Regions from separate parts of the Homo sapiens genome. Here region 1 is linked to region 2. The links come from fine-mapping of genetic effects on gene expression. A gene starts in region 2. The other region holds a variant in brackets. All regions are shown on one strand. Distances are from middle to middle. Region 1 has its middle 8.8 kb from the start of MICOS10-DT. Region 2 holds the start of NBL1 (NBL1, DAN family BMP antagonist).

Region 1 (2,924 bases), 56 kb after region 2:
TTGCTATGTTGCCCAGGCTGGTCTCGAATTCCTGGGCTCAAGGGATCCACCATTCTCAGCCTCCCAAAATGCTGGGATTACAGGTGTGAGCCACCACGCCCGGCTCAATGGGCATATATTTTTATAGAATATGTAAGTCAGGAGGGCGATAGGGTATGTATACCTTCAGCTTCACTTGATACTGCCAAACTTTATCCCAAAGTGATTGTACCAATTTACATTGTCCCCAGCAGCATATGACCATTCCTGTTACTCCATGTCCTCACCAACAGTTAGGCTGTAATGATACTTTAGTATTGTTGCCAGTCTGGTAGGTGTCTGCTAGTATCTCATTGGGGTAGTGCTTGCTCTTTCCTGTGAGTGAGCTACTAGTCATGTACTCTGAATATATAATGTAGCAGGACTGGGGGATTCCAATCAAATCAAAGAGGCCCTGAAAGAGAAGGGAAATTGACAGAGACATTTTGCTAAAGTGATGCCTTGCCAACTTGAAGAAGGTGTGCTGGGTTCAATAGTGTCCCCCCAAATTGATGTCCTTCCTAGAACCTCACAGTGTGGCCTCATTTGGAAATAGGGTTGTTGAAAATGTAATTAGTTGGCTGGGTGCGATGGCTCATGCCTGTAATCCCAGCACTTTGAGAGGCCGAGGCGGGCAGATCACCTGAGGTCAGGAGTTCGAGACCAGCCTGGCCAACATGATGAAACTCCTCTCTACTAAAAATAGAAAAATTAGCTTGGCATGGTGGCTTAGCTTGGCATGGTGGCAGGCGCCTGTAATCCCAGCTACTAGGGAGGCTGAGACAGAAGAATCACATGAACCCAGGAGGCAGAGGTTGTAGTGAGCCGAAATTGCACCACTGCACTCCATCCTGGATGACAAAAGCAAAACTCTGTGTCAAAAAAAAAAAAGTAATTAGTTAAAATTAGGCCAGGTGCTGTGGCTCACACCTATAATCCCAGCACTTTGGAAGGCCGAAGTGGGAGGATCACTTGAGTCCAGGAGTTTGAGACCAGCCTGGGCAATATAGTGAGACCTTGTTTGTACAAAAAATGTTAAAAATTAGCCAGGCGTGGTGGTGCATGCCTATAGTCCCAGCTTCTTGGGAAGCTGAGGTGGGAGGATCACTGGAGCCCAGGAGGCAAGGGCTGCAGTGAGCTAAGATCACACCACTACTACTGCACTCCAGCCTGGCGATAGTGAGACCCTGTCTCAAAAAAAAAAAAAAAAAAAAAAAGATTAGCTCATACTGGAGTGAGATGCACACTAAACCAAAAAGACTGGTGTCCCCATAAGAAAAGAAGAAGAAACACAAAAACAGAGAAGATGACCCTGTGACAACACAGGCAGATAATTTGGCTTATGTGGATATAAGCCAAGGAAGACCACGGATCGCCAGCAAGCACCAGGCGCCAGAAGAAAGGCATGGAACGGATGCTCTCTCTGAGTCCCCTGAAAGGAATCAGTCCTGCTGACGCCTTGACTTTGGCCTTCCAGTCTTTGGAACTGAGAAACACTATAATTCTGTTGTTTCAAAGCCACCAGTTTGTGGTCCTTTGTTATGACATCGTGAGAGAACTAACACAGCAGGGAGCACACTGGATTGAAGATCATGAGAGCTGCACCCCAGTCTCCACTCTGCCGTTAACTGCTGGTTCTGCACATGTAGTCATGCCTGTCTTACCAGGTGGGCCTTTCTGTGGACTCACCTCTTTAGATTCGTTCTTTCTTTTTTTTTTTTTAAGTCAGAGTCTCACTCTGTTGCTCAGGCTGGAGTGCAGTGGCATGATCTTGGCTCTCTGCAACCTCCGCTTTCCAAGCTCAAGCAATTCTCCCACCTCAGCCTCCTGAGTAGCTGGGATTACAGGCATAAGCCACCATCACACCTGATTTTTTT[G/T]TGTGTGTGTGGAGACCGTATTTTGTCATGTTGCCCAGGCTGGGCTCAAGTGATCCCCTGCCTCAGCCTTCCAAAGTGCTGGGATTATAGGCATGAGCCACCAAGCCCAGCCTCTTCAGATTCCTGTATAGTAAGTCATGTACCGCATAATGCCGTTTCTGTCATCTGCAATCTAATGGTGGTCCCATAAGATTATAATACTGTATTTGTACTGTACTTTTTCTGTGTTTATATATGTTTATGGCCAAGCGTGGTGGCTCACGCCTGTAATCCCAGCACTTTGGGAGGCCATGGCGGGTGGATCACCTGAGGTCAGGAATTCAAGACCAGCCTGGTCAACATGGTGAAAACCCGTCTTTACTAAAAATACAAAAATTAGCCAGTCGTGGTGGTGCATGCCTATAATCCCAGCTACTCGGGAGGCTGAGGCAGGAGAATCACTTGAACCCAGGAGGTGGAGGTTGCAGTGAGTAGAGATGGTGCCACTGTACTCCAGCCTGGGCGACAGAGTGAGACTCTGTCTCAAAACAAACAAAAAAACAAACAAAACTGTATTTTTACTGTACTTTTTCTATGTTTAGATATGTTTAGGTACACACTTTCTATTGTGCTACTATTGCCTGCAGTATTCAGTACAGTAACACGTTGTACCGGTTTGCAGCCTAGGAGCAATAGGCTCTGCCATAGTCTGGGTGTGTAGTAGGCTGGAGCATGAAGTACACTCCATGATGTTTGCATGACGACAAGGTCGCCTAACAGCGTGTTTCTCAGCATATATCCCTGTGTTTAAGTGACTCATGAATGTGCTTGCTGCCTCCCCTTGGACCTTCGGGCCTAAGGCTGGGAAGGGCTCCCACTGTTACTAACTCTAGGGTACTGCACCATTCCTCGCTGCTTGTAAATAGCCCTTTTATTAAACTCTCATCCATTTTTCACCTTTATTTATCTTTTTTTTTTTTTTTGAGATGGAGTCTTACTTCATCACCCAGGCTGAAGTGCAGTGGCACCAGTGGCACCATCTTGGCCACT
Region 2 (2,500 bases):
GCCCCAACTCAAGGCAAACCACGCCCAAGCAGCCCCAGCATCTGGGGGAGTCTAGGGAGGCCCCATTCCGCAGTAACAAAGGGTGAGGGGCTCCTTGTTGACAAATTGCTTCCCCGCCAGCGCCCGGTCTTTGGCCTCCAGCCCTGACCTCTGTTTTCCTGGGGTGCCCCTAGTTACAGGCTGGTGGCGTCCAGCTTGGGGAGCGAGGGCCTCCGAAAGCCTGGAAGTGTGGCTTTCTCCCTTGATGCCCGCCAACCTCCGGCCACGCCAAGGCAGGCGGCTGCCCCCTTTGCCGCCGCTTGTAAACGATCAGAATCGCCCCGCCCTGGGAGCGGGCCGGGCAGGTGGCCCGCAGCAGGGCCTGTCGTCCAGCCGGCCTCGCGGGGGTGGAATTCTTAAGAAAACTGAGCCCCCGGAAAGGCTGGCTCTCCCTGCCCCAGACTCAATTCCAGGGAGATGACCCGGGCCAGGCCTCGGGGCCGGCGGGAGGCAGGGGGAGGGTTTGCCGCACCCGGTCTAGGAAACTATTCGTGAACCCCGCTGGGGGAAGGCGAGCCTCCGACACTGGGGGATTGTCTGGATCGGAGGGCGGGGGATCAGGGAGAGGCGCAGACACAGGGCGAGACCCCCACAGAGGGCAGCGCAGAGACAGAGAGAGGGAGAGAAAAGCCAGAGGCAGAGACACAAACGCGGGCAGCCGAACACGGAGGCAGGCGGGGAACGGAAAGAGACGGGCAGACCAGGGGAAAGTGAGCGGCGGAAACGGAGCGACGGAGAGACAGACACACGGACGTGGGGACCGAAGCAGAGGGGGCCGCGGGAGGCGGAAACGTCCAGAGCCGAGAGGCGCGGCGCGGCGAGGCCCGGGCACGGCCGGGGGACATGCGAGCCCGGCCCGCCCGGCCACGCATCTCCCTCCCTCGCTCCCTCTCTCCCCCGGCCGCGGAAACTCCGATCCAGAAACGGAACCCTGGGGCGAGTCTGGGGACGGGCTCCGGACGCGGCGGTGCCCCCCGGCCACCCCGTGCCGCGCCCACGTCCCCAGCGCCGGCGTCCGGAGGCGCCCGCCAGGTCCCCCAGGGCTCCTGAGCTCGGCGGCGGCGCCTCCACCCGGTGCCCGCGGCCGCCGGACGCGCCGGGGGACGCAGCTCCGGGCTGGGGGCGCGGCACTGCCCCCGCGGCCGAAGCCTCTGGAAGCCGGGCGCCCGCGTGCCGACCCGGGCGGGACTTACCGCGCGCGCCCGCCGGTCCTGCGGAGCTGGGTGCGGGGGTCGCGGGCCCGGGCGCCCCAGGAGGCTCGGCGAGGCGGCCGGCAGGGCGGGGGGCGGCCCCGCGACGCTCGGCTGGGCTGCGCTGCGCGCTGTCTGCGGCCCCGGGCGGGCGCGCGGCGCGGGGGAGCGGCTCCGACGTCAGGGTGGCTCCCTCCAAACAGGGCGCGAGGGCGGGGGCAGCGGGGAGGGCCGCGCGCAGAAAGAGCGGGCGGGCGCGCGCGGCCTCTCCCTCCGGGTGCGCAGGAGGGGGCGCCGCGGCGGCAGGGGCCCCGGGCCCTCTCCTGGCCCGCCCGCCCCGGGCTGAGCTTCGGCGCGCTCCGACGGCGTGGTGGGGCGGCCGGGACGCCTGGCCGGCGCCCGAGAGGCAGGGCAGCCCAGCCGGGCGCCCTGGCCCGTTCTTAAGCGCCCTCCCCGGGTTTCTCTGCGCTTCCACTCTCTCCGCCCGACTTTTACCGAGCCTGGGCCGTCAGGCCGTGCCAGGCCTCGGGGTGACAAAGATGGATGTGTCCTTTTTGTGGGCACCGGGCATTGCAGACTTGCCCCGAGAGTGGGGCGCCCCAGCCCGCCGCGTCCCGGCACCAGGAGTCCCCAGTTCTGCGGTGCACCTCATCCCGTCCGCTCCGGCATGCGACCCGGTTCAAGTCCGTGCTGTTGGTAGCCTGGGTTGCTCAGCCTTGCCTAGTGTTATCCTAGTGTCGCTCTCGGCCCCACGCCCTTGGCTTAAGCATCCCGAAAAGCCCCAGGGACTTATTAGGAACTAAAAAGCCAGCAAATGAACTCACTTCTCTGACTCCTGGGAAGAGTGGAGCTCCTGGCCCCAGCTTCCAGCCTCACCTCGGGGGTTCCTATCTAATCAGTGGGCACTTGGGTGGATTGCGGCCGTACCTTCTCTATTCTGTGTGCTTAACAACGGGGTGAGAAAATAACTTTGCTTCTGGAAAGTGGTGGCCCAGGGACACCACTGGGACACGATTGTAGGACTTGGGGATTTTGCTTTACAGCATAGTTACCTGTGTCCATGTGTTTTACCTAGCTTGGCTGGAAACTTCCAGATAGACACAGCCCTGCTTGTCTGACTCATGAGGTTGCCGGGCATCCTGGGTGGCTCCTAGTGGCCTGCTGGGAACTCCCTGGTGTACTCCAGCCTACTCGCACCCTCCACACCCAGCCTGCATCTGCGCCTCCTAGCTGTTGCCTGCGCCCTTCCCTCTGCCCGGAATTCCCTTCCC

Evidence for each region. PIP is the estimated chance that this variant, and not a neighbour inherited with it, causes the effect.
Region 1: its variant is fine-mapped to the expression of NBL1 in whole blood (Lepik 2017, PIP 0.95).

The regions. Positions count from the first base shown.
Region 1 is chr1:19,586,561-19,589,484 of GRCh38, reverse strand. No RefSeq gene overlaps it. Among named protein-coding and RNA genes, the nearest start is that of MICOS10-DT, 8.8 kb to the left of the region's middle. The variant G/T (reference allele first, on the strand shown) is at 1,896.
Region 2 is chr1:19,643,179-19,645,678 of GRCh38, reverse strand. NBL1 (NBL1, DAN family BMP antagonist) reads right to left here and starts at 1,368. Exons shown (of 4, transcript NM_005380.8): 1 at 1,233-1,368. The region is part of intron 1 of MICOS10-NBL1 (MICOS10-NBL1 readthrough); the gene reads right to left. RefSeq lists a silencer at 1,283-1,622 and an enhancer at 1,521-2,356.